Linked DNA regions of Homo sapiens: region 1 is linked to region 2. A link means that fine-mapping ties the variant in region 2 to the expression of a gene that starts in the linked region. Tissue or cell type: whole blood. Region 2 holds a variant in brackets; the other region holds the start of a gene. All regions are shown on one strand. Distances are between the middles of the regions.

Region 1 (8,107 bases), 200 kb after region 2:
TGCTGAACACAGCGCTTAACCATGAGTGATTCCAGAAGAAAAGCCTGTGTGTTGGGCCGGGCACGGTGGCTCACGCCTATAATCCCAGCACTTTGGGAGGCTGAGGTGGGTGGATCGCCTGAGGTCAGGAGTTCGAGACCAGCCCGGCCAAAATAGTGAAACCCCATCTCTACTAAAAATACATAAAATTATCTGGGCATGGTGGCAGGCGCCTGTAATCCCAGCTACTAGGGAAGCTGAGGCAGGAGAATTGCTTAACCCAGAAGGCGGAGGTTGCAGTGAGCCGAGATCACACCATTGCACTCCAGCCTGGGCCACAGGAGCGAAACTCCCATCTCAAAACAATAAAAAAAAGAGAAAAGCCTGTGTGGTCCTTGGGCCTCTCAGATCCACTGTCAGCCTTCCTCTGTGCCGCTGAGTCGGAGGCCAGCCTCTGCAGGCTGACTAAGTGTTCCAGGCTGCTGGATCACCTTGAGTATCAGGTGGGTTTGTCAGTGGAAGGCACTAGTGAGACAAAAGGTGCTCCACCAAATTAAGACCTACAAGACAGTGATTCTACAACTTTTTTTTTTTTTTGAGGCGGAGTCTCTCTCTGTCGCCCAGGCTGTAGTGCAGTGACCCGATCTTGGCTCACTGCAACCTCCGCCTCCCAGATTCAAGCCATTCTCCTGCCTCAGCCTTCCGAGTAGCTGGGACTACAGGCACATCCCACCACGCCTGGCTAATTTTTTGTATTTTTAGTAGATACGGGGTTTCACCATGTTAGCCAGGATGGTCTCAATCTCAGGACCCTGTAATCCGCCCGCCTCAGCCTCCCAAAGTGGGGGGATTACAGGCGTGAGCCACCACTCCTGGCCTGATTCTACAACTTCTAAGACCAGCCCCTAGCCCCACAAAGTGATAACCCAACACTTAACTTAAAATTTGAGTAAAACAGAGAGCTAAACTAAGTGTCAGAGTCAGGTCCAAAATCCAGCTTGGCCGCACCTGTTTGCACAGTCTCTCTGTTCTCTAGGCCTGTGTCCTGATATGTACAATGACCTCTAAAGTTCCTAGTTCTCAGGCCACATTTTAGCATTTACACACTTCTGCATTCAAGCATCTCTACTGAGCTGCAGACTGCTGCCTAACTTTTTAAATGAGGTAACTGCTCTGAAGTTGAAAAAACAATTGACTAGAAACTGGAAAACCTGTGTTCAAGTTGAAGCTCTACCTCCAATATGCTGTAAATTCAGACGAGTTCCTTAACTTGACCCATAATTTGTGTCAGCTCAGTTTCTTCATTTGTAAGACAATCTAATTGTCTGGCTAGGTGCTCTTTAGTGTTCAAAACAAAACTCATTACCTTTCCCAACACACTCTATCTCCTGAACTCTGATGTTGTTTACCCAGTTTCCTAAGGATCCTCCAAGATCCCAATTCCTCCCTCTTATTCATTATGGACCCCATCTCTGCCCCTGCTCTAATAGCTACAAGTCATGTTTGCTTCATGTCTCTAAAACCCAAACACTGATCTCAGTGCCACTGACCTGACACAGTTCAGACCACACACCTCTCACCTGCTCTATCAGCCACCCAGTAGCCATCTCCCTGTCCCATTCTTTCCTCTCTTCAATCCATTCCCCATATTGCTGCCGCAGTTACCTTCAAAACACAAAAATTACCCTATCACTTCCTTGTCTAAAATCCTCTACCAGCTCCCAGCATGCCTTATAAGTGAACAACAAATTCATGTAGGCTGTGAGCCACCTTCCTAGACTCCCCACAGGCCCTATTGGTCACCCTCTCCAGTGTGACCACGTGACTTTGTGCTGCAGCATCCTTTGGCTGGGATGCCTCGCTTCCTTCTCAGATCAGTAACCTCATCCTTGAGGATGGAAAGGCTCATATATCACCTCTTCTACCCCAGCTCATACTGGTGTTTCTCCTTCGTGCTCCTTGCTATACCTCCTTAGTATCACTTAGCGTGGTGAATTCTATTATCTGTTTTTGTGCCCATCTTCCAGCAGAATGTGTCCTGACATCCACATAATGCCTGCTCTATGACGTAAGTGAAATATACAATTTAGAGTGCAGGCTCTGGAGCCAGAGTGCCAGGGTTCAAATCCTAGCTTTCTTGCTGTGTCACCTTAGGCAATATACTTAAATCTCCCCAATCCTATGCATATATAGCTGAAAAAAGTAGAAAACAATAGTTTAAACATCAAAAAGTTATTTTTGTTTTGTTTGGGACAGGGTCTCCCTGTCACTCAGGCTGGAATGCAGTGGCAGGATCAAGCGATCCTCCCGCCTCAGCCTCCCAAAGTGCTGGGATTACAGGCAGGAGCCATGGTACCGGGCCCTCAAAGGGTTATTAGAAAGACAAAAGATAATGTACATGAAGTGCTTAGCACTCTCCCTGGGGTAGCAGTGATAGAAAAATACAAATAATCATAATATTAATAGTAACAGCAGCAGCAGGAGAAAAGTAATATTAATAGCTAACACTGACTCAGCCCTTACTGTATGTGAGGCATATGCAGAGACCCTTACACATGCCACTCATTTTGCGTCCACTACATCATGCGTTGGGTACTATTATTGTCACCATCCCCATTTTTGCGTATGAGAAAACTGAGAGCACAGAAAGCTTGAGTAACTGCCCCAAAGTCACACTACAGAACCAGAATCTCAGCCAGGTTCCAGAGGCCTAGCTTTTACTGACCACGATTAGATGCCTGAGTGAGCAAGAAATGCTAAATTATCAGGCAACCTGTAAATATTTTAAGGGACCGGAACAAATCTGTCCAAGGAAAACTGCTAAAATGCAAAATTTGCTCAGATGAGGAAATTCACCAAATCGCTGGGTAGCGTAAGCATGAATGCTTTCTCTTTCCTCCTGAATTTTGTTTTGCTGCTTCCCAAGTTTTCCGGAGCTCGGAGGGAACAAGGTGCGAAAGTGAACCCTGACGGGGAGCCGCCCCGCCCCAGAGCCCAGGGCCCAACGCCGGCATGCCCCGTCCAAGTCTACCCGCCCCTCACGTTGAAGGCAGGCAGTTGCCCTTCGGGCGCGCGATGCAGCTCGCGGATCAGTTCCATGGCTTTTTCGCAGAACATGGCGGACGCTTCCCACTCCCGCGGCCTTGCCAACCACCAGCTCTCACGCCAAAATGGTATCTGGGCTCTCGGCGCCTCACTCCTTTCGTTCTAGTCCTACAGCGCCAGGCTCTCGCCTCGGCCTCCGCTCCGCGCTTTGGCGCCGAACAAAGCTAGCCAATAGGAACGCGCCTACGGCGCCCGAAAAGGGACATCCACCGCTCAGCCGCATTCCAAGAGGGGCGGAGTGGGAGGGGTCTTTCCAAGGTGAGGTCCCCGCCCCGGAGATGGCAGAACCCCTCGGCTGAGCAGAGACGGCTTTTCCAGTTCTCAGGCAGTGGGCCGGGGGACTCTACGGGCAGCAGAGCTGGAAATAAATGCACGCCCCGCAGCTTCCTTGTCATTTTCCTTTTGATTCATTCATTCTCGTTTAGGTTCAAGAAAAGAGCACTTTGAGGTTAAGAGGAAAGGCCCAAAAACTTGGTGTGCATTGGTAGGACGCAAGGGTTTCAGTTTTGCAGTGCGGGTTTTCTGTTTGATATTAAAATGAAACTCTCTTTTATTGGGTACCTAGTGCTGGTAGGGACTGCAGTGTGTATTTCATTCCCACAATTATCTCTGAAGTGTTTTAAGACCCGGGATTAATAAGGAAACAGAAGTTAGGTAACTTGCCCAAGGTCACACAGCTCCAGAGTGATTAGACTGTTATTTAGGCTTTCCATTTCCAACACCACAGTACCACCCTTTGATTTTAAAATAGTCTTTTAAAAATATTTGTAATATCTGCCCTAGATTAATACGAATTCACTAGGAATTTTCTTGGCTAGATGGTTATGGAATATTTCTTAAGCATATGGAAGATGGGAATCACTGCTAAAGAATTGTTTTATTAGGCAATTTTTCAAAAAGCAATGTTAATTTCTAACAAGCAATCTTGGATTTTTTTTTTTTTGAGATGGAGTCTCGCTCTGTCGCCCAGGCTGGAGTGCAGTGGCGCGAACTCGGCTCACTGTAAGCTCCGCCTCCCGGGTTCACGCCATTCTCCTGCCTCAGCCTCCCGAGTAGCTGGGACTACAGGCGCCCGCCACCACGCCCAGCTAATTTTTTGAATTTTTTAAGTATAGACGGGGTTTCACCGTGTTAGCCAGGACGGTCTCAATTTCCTGACCTCGTGATCCGCCCACCTCGGCCTCCCAAAGTGCTGGGATTACAGGCATGAGCCACCGCAACCGGCGCAATCTTGGATTAATTCTAGCTAACCCTAGAAACTATGTTGATCTTTTGCAAATATACAGTAGATATGTCATCTAAGGAATGGGCATGGGAATGGCCTACTCAGGCTTATGTTGAATAATGACATTGCCTTTTTTTTTTGGAGACAGGGTCTTAACTCCCGTTACCCAGGTGGAGTGCAGTGGCGCCATCTCAGCTCACTGCAGCCTCCACTTCCCGGGCTGAGGTAATTTTCCCCCCTCAGCCCTCTGAGTAGCTGGGACTACAGGCTCAGGCCACCACACCTGGCTATTTTGTATTTTAAGTAGAGACAGGGTTTCACCATGTTGGCCAGTCTGGTCGACAACTCTTGAGCTCAAGGGATCCGTCCGCCTGGGCCTCCCAAAGTGCTGGAATTACAGCGTGAGCCACCGCACCCAGCAAACATTGCCTTTTTGAAACCGCCTTTGAAAAAATTATAATAGAGAAAATTATTACAGTGAAAGAGATCTGACCTAACTGGCTCCATCTTGCTTCTAACCGCCAAGCCATCCTTGTTCATTCCTGGGCTTAGGGCGAATTAACTTGGGGAGAAACTTAGTTTATAGTTTAATTTTGAAACAAATACTTAGCCCTTTACCAAAGCGAAACCCTTTTTGTCTGGGGACTAGATTGCCTTTGCAGGAGTAACAGAGTAGCCACAAGACTAGAAATTTACGAGTCTCGCAGCGGGAGGCTACAAGATTCTAAAACCTCCCCAAGTGCTCCTAGGGATAGCAGCACTATTATAAAACCTAAGACCAGTGCTTGAGATATTTTGTAGACCCTGCACTTGATGGGATCAGCTGGCACCACCCAGATCGATAAACTGGCTCATCTGGTCTTGTGGTCCCCACCCAAGAACTGACTCAGCCCAAGAGGACAGCTTTGACTCTCTATGATTTTATCTCTCATCCAACCAATCAGCACCCCTCACTTTGTGACCCCCTACCCACTAAATTATCCTTTAAAATCCCTATCTTGGAGTTTTCTAGGAGACTGATTTGAGCGATAATAAAACTCCAGTCTCCTGTACAGCTGGGTCTGCGTGAATTAAACTCTTTCTCAGCCAGGCCCAGTGGCTCACGCCTGTAATCCCAGCACACTGGGAGACTGAGGCGGGTGGATCACCTGAGGTCAGGAGTTCGAGACCAGTCTGGCCAACATGGTGAAACCCCATCTATACTAAAAATGCAAAAATTAGCCTGTCCGGGCATGGTGGCTCACACCTGTAATCCCAGCACTTTGGGAGGCCAAGGTGGATGACCTGAGGTCAGAAGTTCAAAACCAGCCTGGCCAACACAGCGAAACCCCATCTCTACTAAAAATACAAAAAAATTAGCTGAACATGGTGGCACACGCCTGTAATCCCAGCTACTCAGGAGGCTGAGGAAGGAGAATTGCTTGAACCCAGGAGGTGGAGGTTGCAGTGGGCCGAGATCTCACCACTGCACTCCAGCCTGGGTGACAGAGTGAGACTCTGTCTCAAAAAAAAAAAAAAAAAAATTAGCTGGGCCTGGTGGCACATGCCTGTAATCCCAGCTACTTGGGAGGCTGAGGCAGGAGAATCACTTGAACACTGGAGGCGGAGGTTGCAATGAGCTGAGATTGTGCCATTGAGCTCCAGCCTGAGCGACAGAGCAAGACTCTGTCTCAAAAAACAAACAAACAAACAAACAAACAAAAAACCAAAAAACTCTTTCTCTATTGCAACTCCCCTGTCTTGATAAATCAGCTCTGTCTGGGCAGTGGACAAGGAGAATCCCTTGGGCAATTATATTTTCATCTCTACAGTAAGGAATAGTTTATCTAGGTGTTTTTCCCAAATACACAACTCTAGACTGGACTATGCTGCAGGACTGAATCAAAGACCAGCATGCACTACCCTCCTCAGCCATAGGCCTTTTTAATTTCAGCCCAGAGGCAAAGTTCATTAATGACCCCAAGACTCACTTCCTTAACAGTAGAATGAGAACAGTGGAACCACCTCTAAGGAGTTAAGATGATTCAGTCATACCTTCTGCAAATATTTATGAAATGCCTAGTGTTGAAGTTAAAACCAAACTCTAAAATATTTAAAGAGATTTATTCTGAGCCAATGAGTGACCATGGCCCAGGAACAGCCTCAAGAGGTCCTGAGAAAGCGTGCCTGAGGCAGTGCAGTTACAGGTTACAGGTTGGTTTTATGTATTTTAGGGAGACAGGAATTATAGGTAAAATCATAAATCAACACATGGAAGGTGTACTTTTGTTCAGCCTAAAAAGGTGGGATATCTTGAAGCAGGGAGCTTACAGATTTTCTGATTAGCAATTGGTTGAGTCAAGTTTTGTCTAAAGACTGTCAATAGAAGGAAATTATTGAGTTAAGGGGGAGGTTGTGGAGACCAAGTTTCTTGTTATGTGGATGAAGCCTCATAGGCAGCAGCCTTCTGAAAGAATTGATGGTAAATGTCTCTTTTTGGATCTTAAAAGGTGTGTTAAACTCTTGTTTAACCTCTCCTAGATTCAGGAAAGACCTGGCTGCATTAACGGAGATTCTTAACAGATGCAAATTCCCCACACAAAAGATGGCTTTCCAGGGCCATTTCAAAATATTTCAAAGAAATATATTTTGGGGTAAAACATCTTGATTTCCTTCAGAGTCTGCTATCTGTCATGTGATGCTACATCAGTCAGGTTGGAGTTTGGACCTTATTGCCACAAAGAGTGTGTTTGTGAGTCTTAGGATCTTTATTTTAATGTTAATGCTGGCCAGTTGCACCTATACTCCAAAAGGGAGGGGGTACAACAAGGTGCATCCCATCTTGCTTCTTGTCATAGCCGATAATTCCATTTTTGTTTTTTTTCAGGTTTCCCTGGGGTCCCCTTGGCCCAGAAGGGGTCCATCCAGTCAGCAGGGGATGGAGGGTTTGGGATTTTATTTTTGGTTTACACTAGTATTAGCCTGGCATTGACCTAGATACTGAAAATAAAGCAGTAAACAAAGTCCTTTCTACAGAGTCTACATTCCAGTGTGGGAAAACGCAATACACAGATACACTGATAAGAAATATATTGGTGAAAAAGCACTAAGAATAACCCAAAGAAGATGAATAGAGTGAAGGTGAAAGAGTCAGGGTTTTGAGTTCAAGTGTTCAGAGAAGGCACAGACCTGAACAGGGAGAAAATAACCCAAGTGGTTATGGGCCTTAGGGAAGGCAGGAAATTCCAGGCAGAGGAATCAAGCTGCAAAGGCCCCAGGAAGGTCGGCTGAGGATGAGCAAAGAGGCAGTGATGCTGGAGCAGGTTGATGATAGGAGAGGCCAGCAGTCAGGTCAGATGTTGGGAGCTGAAAAGGCCAAAGGGATTGTGACCAACTCAGCATTCCACTGGAGGCTATATTATCAAACAGCAAACTGTTTATCAAGAATGCAGGATGTGAGCAAACTCACACTGTGCCTGCCACCAAAAGGTTGGCTGAGGGCCGCGCTCCCTGGTGCCGGGCTCCTTGAAGTTATCTACGGAGAAATCTAGTGCCTATTGTTCAAAGGATGCAGTCTCGCAAGCCTGCTGTGAACCAAACAGCTGACTGACAATTACCCGACAATCACCCCCCCCATTTATCACTATCTGTTTTGCCTAATAAATATGGAGGGCTGTGTAAAGCTCAGGGCCCTTGTCCACTAGAGGCAAGGTGCCCCTTGACCCCTTCTTTCAAATATACTCTTTTGTCTCTTGTCTTTTATTCTCACATTCACCGCCCCCTTTGTTCAGTCCCCCTAGGTTCATGCAGGTTACAGGT
Region 2 (8,107 bases):
AATGCTGGGATTACAGGTGTGAGCCACTGTGCCTGGCCAATACTCAGATTTTAAAAGTCATGGAAGATAGCCAGGCATGATGGCTCACACCTGTCATCTCAGCACTTTGGGAAGCTGAGACGGGAGGATCGCTTAAACCCAAAAAGTAAAAAAAAGTAAAATTTTTTAAAAAGTCACAAAAGATAAAATGGTTTTAACCACCAGACAATTAAAGAAATAATACTCAAAATAGTTCCTGTTTAAAATTACATTTTTTAATGCTTAAAGGAATTATATTGACCATTTTATTGAAGCTTAGAGGTTAAGCAAATCAGCCAATTTGGACTCTCAGATATGTGTCCTCAGCCCACTTGGCATCTCTGCGTAGATGTCTAATAGACATTACCAAAATAACTCCTTTCCAACCAAACTCCTGGATTTCTCTCAAAAATCTGCTCTTCCTGCTGTCTTCCACATCTCAGTAACAGCAATGTCACTTTTTTTTCAGGATATGGCTATATCTTGCACTTAAGAATATTCCTGGCCCGTGGTAGGCACTCAGTGAATATCTGTTGAATGAAGCAGTTATTGGCTATTTCTATAAAAATTAATTAAAATTAAACAAATTTTAACAACAAGGGGCAACTCATCAACTCGTTTTTGTTAAAATTTTACTTTTCCTTCCTTTCACATGCGGATTTGTCCTTTGCACCATGATAAAGCAGAATGGGAATTCTGTGTTGAGGACTGCAGTGATGATGCTAGTTCACTTCCTGTAATGTGCCTGTTTCCAAGCACCAGCTAATAACCTGTACCACACTGTTGAGCTGATACAGAAATGACAGTTGACGGAATGGTCACAAATCTCCATTTATTTGACATATGTATTTAATGAAGAAAATCTTTCTTGAGTACATTTACAAACTCCAGCAGTGACTGTCATTATGATGGAAAATATTCACGTTCTGTTCCTTTTTTTTTTTTTTTTTTTCTTGAGACAAGGTCTCACTTTGTCACCCTGGGGTGCAGTGGTACAACATGGCTCACTGCCGCCTCACCTCCCAGGCTCAAGCAATCCTTCCACTGCAGCTTTCCGAGTAGCTGGGACCATAGGTGAGCGCCATTACGCCCGGCTAATTTTTGTATTTTTTGTAGAGACGAGGTTTTGCCATGTTGACCAGGCTGGTCTCAAACTCCTGAGCTCAAGGGATCTGCCCACCTTGGTCTCCCAAAAGTGCTGGGATTACAGGCATGAGCCACCATGCCCAGCCAGAAAATATTCTTAATACAGTTTGAAATATGCCTTTACTTGGAAGGGCTTTTTTTTTAAAAAGGATGCTACAGGCTATTTACTGAATACAGTGCTGAAAGCATCTATCACACAACGGAAAAAATGGCAAAAGTAGCTGTAGTCAGTAGAAGAGGGACTAGAAGACAGCAATAGAAAATCAATTACTTATTGGGCCAGGCATGATGGCTCATGCCTGTAATCCCAGCACTTTGGAAGGCTGTGATGGGAGGATCACTTGAGGACAGGAGTTTGAGACCAGCCTGGTCAACATAGCGAGACCCCCATCTCTTTAAAAAAAAAAAAAGAAAGAAAAAATCAATTACTTATTGTTTCGGTAATCTATTGCTGAAAAAGAATACACACACCCCAAAAGTTAGTGTATTAAAACAACAAAATCACTTATTGTGGCATCACCTGGAGTACTGGCTTGTCTGAACTATGCAAAATGGCCTCACTCACATGGCTGGCAGTTCATTCCGGCTGTTGACATGGGTCAACGTGGATTATTACACGGGATGGCTGGAACAACCGGACCGCTCTCCATGTGGTCCAAGAGCCTCTCCATGGGACTAGCTTAGGTTTCCTCTCAACATGGTGGCTGGGCTCCAATAAGGAGCATTCCAGTTGGGCAACCCCCAGCGTATAAATACTTTGAAGCCTCAGTTTGCATCATGCTTTCTAATATCTTTTAGCAAGAGCTACTCAAATAAACTATTACACTTGTGAATGAGGTAGGTACTGCTTTGGTTACATAATTGGGCAGGGAATAGTCCCAAGAGAGACAAGACGTGAGGTAAAGATAAGAAGGGAAATGTTCCCTCAAAGTGAACAAGCAAGAGGCATTCTGGTATATCCTGAGATATCCTTTATTATTTATGTTTCCACTGATATTCATGATAATGAAATAAACCACTGAGCTCATGTTCTTGTCTAGAAGAACAGCTGCTACATTTGATGTACTCAACCACTAGCTCTAGCTCTACAGTTCAGTTACTTTTTTTTTTTTTTTTTTTGAGACAGAATCTCACCCTATCACCCAGGGTGGAGTGCAGTGCTGTGAACATGGGTCCAGGCAGCCTAGACCTCCCTGGCTCAAGTGTCCTCCCACCTCAACCTCCCAAGAAGCTGGCACTGCAGGTGTGCACCACTGCTTCTGGCTGATTTGTGTATTTTTTGTAGAGACAGGGCTTTGGAATGTTGCCCAGGCTAATCTCAAACTCCTGGCTTCAAATGATCCTCCTGCCTCAGCCTCCCAAAGTTCTGGGATTACAGGTGAGAGTGTGAGCCACTGAACCTGGCCTCATTACTTCCTTTTTTCTTTTTATTTTTTTGAGACAGAGTTTCACTCTGTCGCCAGGCTGGAGTGCAATTGGCTCACTACAACCTCTGCTTCCTGGGTTCAAGCGATTCTCCTGCCTCAGCCTCCTGAGTAGCTGGGACTACAGGTGCGCACCGCCACGCCCAGCTAATTTTTGTATTTTTAGTAGAGATGGGCTTTCATCATGTTGGCCAGGATGGTCTTAATCTCTTGACCTCATGATCCGCCCGCCTCAGCCTCCCAAAGTGCTGGGATTACAGGCGTGAGCCACCGTGCCCAGCCCTCATTACTTCATTTTATACCAGTGATTTTTATTTGAGTCGCTGCTAAATCGAGAAATCTAGGAAAAGTTATGGACCTTCTTCCGCCCAAAATTAATCTATTCACATAACCAAACATTTACATATTATTTTAGGGGTCCACCAAATTCCCCTTAACCCCCCACAAGTCCATCCATAGACACCTCTATGAAATACAACCCTAGTTTATTCCTTGGTGTCTACCACCTTTTTATACTGGCCAAGTTCTTAATAATTAGGGATGTCTGTGTCATCTTTGTACGTCTCCCAAGCCTGAAATCTGTGCTTAAAAATGTAATAAATAATAAAATAAACTTTGAAAACAACACAGACAGTGCTTTACTGAGTGTCCAACAGATGCCACTAAAATAAGATATTGATGCTGCTTCTCCGGAAACAGCTGTTTCGTTTCTGGGAATTCCTGGGCAAACCCCTCCCTCTGGGAAGGATGAACACAGCTCAGATGCTCAGTACATACTGAGGTCAGCATCCGTCCACGGGTTTTTTTGTGTGGGTAGGTTTTTTGTTTGTTCATTTTTTTGAGACAGAGTGTCGCTCTGTCACCCAGTCTGGAGTGCAATGGTGTGATCTCTGCTCATTGCAACCTCCGCCTCCTGGGTTCCAGTGATTCTCCTGCCTCAGCCTCCTGAGTAGAGTAGCTGGTATTATAGGCGCCTGCCACCACGCCCAGCTAATTTTGTATTTTTAGCAGAGATGGGGTTTCACCATGTTTGCCAGGCTGGTCTCGAACTCCTGACCTCAAGTGATCTGCCCTCCTCGGCTTCCCAAAGTGCTGGGATTACAGGCGTGAGCCACTGCACCTGGCTGAGTTTTTTTGACTAAAAATGTTAGTGTCCACAGTGTTTTTAACAGTTTTCTAAAACCTTCACTGCAATGAGGAAAGCGAAGCCCAGACTGCTGAAACAACTGGCACACGTTCCTGCCATGGTGGATCAGCGCTGCCGGCCCTGCCGGCCCTGCTCCCTCCTGGTCTGCCAAATGCTATGCTTGCCCCTGCCCATGGGAACTCCCCAGGCAGCATTAGATACTGTGGCAGGTATTTAAATTTTGAGGGTCACATTTGGAACACCAGATATAAAAACTAGAGAACAATGTACTAGATACACGAGTGTAACTAGTGTGCTGAACAAGGATGCCATGAGGCGCAGTGGCTCACTCCTGTAATCCCAGCACTTTGGGAGGCACTTTGGCAGGTGCATCACCTGGCATCAGGAATTCAAGACAAGCTTGGCCAACATGGTGAAACCTCATCTCTACTAAAAATACAAAATTATAGGTGTGGTGGCACATGCCTATAATCCTAGCTATGCGAGAGGCTGGGGCAGGAGAATCATTTGAACCTGGGAGGCGGAGGTTGTAGTGAGCTGAGAACTTGCCACTGCACTCCAGCCTGGGCGACAGAGCAAGACTCTGTCTCTAAATAAATAAATAAACCACGGAATTTAGTGGAAATGAACTTTTCGGTCACCTGCTATCCCTTTCACATCTACTCAGAGTGGGAAGTTTTCTCCTGGCAGTGGACTGAAGGGAGATGTGGACGCCAGCCTTTTCTGCTCAGTCCTAGGAAATTGTCCTGTGATGACTTGATGTCACAAACACCATCCTGGTGCAGACCCATGGAGGGTTTAGCCCAGTGGAGGCGGCCACACTTCGGGCTTTGCTCTAAGGAGAACTAATTGCACCTGCCTGCCCCCTCAAGGCCTGCCTGACACAGCCACCCTGTGGGGGTGTGGGATGGTTGGCGTCTTTCTTCCACACTCATCTCCTCTTTGCAAGTTGGGGGTGAGGTGGGACGCTGGGCAGGGAAGTAAGTTCTCGCTTGGGACTTCCTCACCAAAGCCTGGTTTTGTCTTGAGTTAGCTCCATAGCCTCCAGCCCCAACCTGCCTCCCATTGGGCACTTTCAGGGGCTCTTGTTTTCTGTTTTTTTCTTTGCCCGGCTGACACCTTGATTTCCCTTTTTTTTTTTTTTTTTTTTTTT[TTG/G]GAGATGGGGTCTCACTATGTTGCCCAAGCTGGTCTTGAGCTCCTGGCCTCAAGTGATCCTCCTGTATTGGCCTCCCAAGGAGCTAGAAGTACATGCGTGAGCTATTAGGCTTGGCTTCAGGGGCTCTTTAAAGACCTCTGGTAAACCCCCTCCAGCTGCAGCTTAGCTTGTGCTTCTCCAGTGGGCTGTCTTCTGGCCCTAGGTCTCAGGCAGGCCCCTCCACCACTGGTTCTCACCACTGGACTCCCCTTTGTCTTCTGGAAGGGACCCCAGGTCAGCCTCTCTCCCATGTCCTTGCCCCTTATCAGTGAGAATGGAGTTACATCCCACCCACATCCTTCACGCCCCCTACCACCCCTGCCATAGGCCCCTTGAACTTTCATGCTTTCTGCAGAAAAGGCATGCCAACCTGTCTCTGGATTTCACCACTGGGTCGTCCCATTCTCTGGGTTTGGGTGAAGGAAGGAGTTCCTCTCTCACCCCCTGAGAGAACAGCAGCCACAGGCTGCAGTAGCTCTCTCTCCAAAGAAATCCTGTAATTCCCTTCCTCTTCCATCTGCAGTTTCTCCACTGCAATATTCTTGAAATAGGTAAGGGACTTCAAAAGTCAGGAAATGAGTTGTTGACTGATTGATTTCAAAACTCCTCCAACAAGTGTCACACTAACTGGTGCCTGATGTCTACTGGCTTAGGTCAAAGTTTCCATTCTGAGGCTGTGCCTGTGAGATCTGCCAGAGCACGTGTGTCCTGTGTGATCCGCCAGAGCACGTGTGTCCTGTGATCCGCCAGAGCACGTGTGTCCTGTGAGATCCGCCAGAGCACGTGTGTCCTGTGAGATCCGCCAGAGCACGTGTGTCCTGTGAGATCCGCCAGAGCACGTGTGTCCTGTGATCCGCCAGAGCACGTGTGTCCTGTGAGATCCGCCAGAGCACGTGTGTCCTGTGATCCGCCAGAGCACGTGTGTCCTGTGATCCGCCAGAGCACGTGTGTCCTGTGAGATCCGCCAGAGCACGTGTGTCCTGTGAGATCCGCCAGAGCACGTGTGTCCTGTGTGATCCGCCAGAGCACGTGTGTCCTGTGAGATCCGCCAGAGCACGTGTGTCCTGTGAGATCCGCCAGAGCACGTGTGTCCTGTGATCCGCCAGAGCACGTGTGTCCTGTGATCCGCCAGAGCACGTGTGTCCTGTGAGATCCGCCAGAGCACGTGTGTCCTGTGATCCGCCAGAGCACGTGTGTCCTGTGAGATCCGCCAGAGCACGTGTGTCCTGTGAGATCCGCCAGAGCACGTGTGTCCTGTGATCCGCCAGAGCACGTGTGGCCTGTGATCCGCCAGAGCACGTGTGGCCTGTGATCCGCCTGAGCACGTGTGCCTGAATGGCAATTCCTTGCCATTCCTGAATCAACCCTTTGTTTTGGAGGAGAAAAAGTTCCAATTTTGATACCCTGGTACATAAACAAGAAGGAATACGGTACAATATAGATGAACACCTCCTGAAACAAAGTCTCATAAGGGAGCTACTGTGCAGTGGCTTGACTGGGGATATGAATCTAAGCTGAGGATTGAAGGAAATGAAACATTTGATTGGGGCAAAGAAGGGAGAGAATTCATTCAGTTCAACACAAGCATAGAGGGCTCCTCCTGAGTGCCAGGAGCTGAGTACCAAGCAACCAGGAGTTTACAATCTCCACAGAGAGGGATCTGAGTAGGGGGGTGAGAAGTGAAATTTGGATGGGTAGGATGGACTGTCAAAAGTGGGCTGTGGACATAGGCCTGGAGTCAGAGAGCACTGTCCTCTGCATTTTAGGAAGGTGGGGAAGCCTGTGTGCATGTGTCTGTGGGTCTGTGTGGAACAGGATGTGCAGTGTGGAGGTGTGTGAATAGTGAAGGCAAAGGAGGGTTTGTGGAGAGGTGTGTGTGAGATAGTTGTGTGCATGTATGTAGGTGTGTGGAGAGGTGTGAGATGGTTGTGTGTGTATGTAGGTGTGTGGAGAGGTGTGTGTGAGATGGTTGTGTGCGTATATGTAGGTGCGTGGAGAGGTTTGTGTGAGATGGTTGTGTGTGTGTATGTAGGTGTGTGGAGAGGTGTGTGTGAGATGGCTGTGTGCATGTATGTACGTTCGTGGAGAGGTGTGTGTGAGATGGTTGTGTATGTGTGTGGAGAGGTGTGTGTAGGGGGTGTGCATGTCACACTGGGTGTGTCTAGAAGGGTTGTGTGTGTGTGCTTAGTGGGTGTAGTAGTGAGGTTGTGGTGAATGTGAGTTATACAGTTGTGTTTGTGTACATTGTGTGTATGACAGTGGTATGTGTAGCAGTGTTGTGTTAGGGGTGTGTGTGTAGTGGTTACTGAATAAGAACTATGTGAAGGACAGATGCTTTCTTTATTGAATTAAAACCTGCCTGGGTGAGAGAGAGACAGAGCAGCAGAGAGACAGAGGCAGAGACAGACAGGGAGACAGAGGCAGAGACAGAGAGACGGGGAAAGACAGAGACAGTGGCAGAGAGACAGACAGAGGCAGAGTATCATGAAGAGATGAGACAGAGACAGTGGCAGAGAGGCAGACAGAGTCAGAGACAGAGAAGCAGAGAGAGATGAAGAGAGACACGAAGAGAGACACAGAGAGGCCTGGAATGTCCTGTGTGATGCCGGCCAGGGGTGCCTGTTGTCTCTCCTGCAGTCAATTCCTCTAAAGTCCCAGCCTCCTTCTTAGAGAACCTATCCTTGGCCTCTTCTCAGACTGAACTTCTCCAGTGAGTGGGCAGCCGCCTCCAACTGAGCCCAACTGTGCAAGGCAGGTTCTTCGGGGAATTCAGGACTCACAGGCTCTGGTTTGGGAGTGCCATTCACGAATGTCCACAGGGTCCAGGCCAGCCTGTAGGCGAGCCACACAGGCTGGGGGAGGGCACAGAAGTGGTGTGGGCTGTGGCAGACCCACGAGGGGATGACCCAGAGGACGCCTGGGCACCAGGCCAAGCCAATTGGGTCTGCAGGCAATACCGCGGGGCTCCTGGTCTGTGCGCTCAGCACATTCCTCTTCTGTTGCGTGAACTCTTGAAAGGGCAAGTGAGGTAAAGCCATGGTCACAGAGAAAGGGAGTCTGTGGAGACAGAAGAGTAAGTGGGTCTGCAAGGCAAGGGAGAGGGAGGGACCTGTGGGTCAGGATAGGTACAGTGGACTGAACTGTGTCCCTCCAAAACTCGTGTGCTGAAGCCCCAAC

What was found. PIP is the estimated chance that this variant, and not a neighbour inherited with it, causes the effect.
Region 1: GINS1 starts here. The variant in region 2 is fine-mapped to the expression of GINS1 in whole blood (INTERVAL, PIP 0.98).

What each region holds. Positions count from the first base shown.
Region 1 is chr20:25,402,810-25,410,916 of GRCh38, reverse strand. It overlaps GINS1 (GINS complex subunit 1), which reads right to left and starts at 3,244. Exons shown (of 7, transcript NM_021067.5): 1 at 3,022-3,244. The coding sequence starts at 3,096. LOC105372581 (a long non-coding RNA gene) reads left to right here and starts at 2,622. Exons shown (of 3, transcript XR_937403.3): 1 at 2,622-2,846; 2 at 8,080-8,107. RefSeq lists enhancers at 2,098-2,855, 2,953-3,202.
Region 2 is chr20:25,600,559-25,608,665 of GRCh38, reverse strand. No RefSeq gene overlaps it. Among named protein-coding and RNA genes, the nearest start is that of NINL, 19 kb to the right of the region's middle. RefSeq lists an enhancer at 5,387-6,586. The variant TTG/G (reference allele first, on the strand shown) is at 4,889.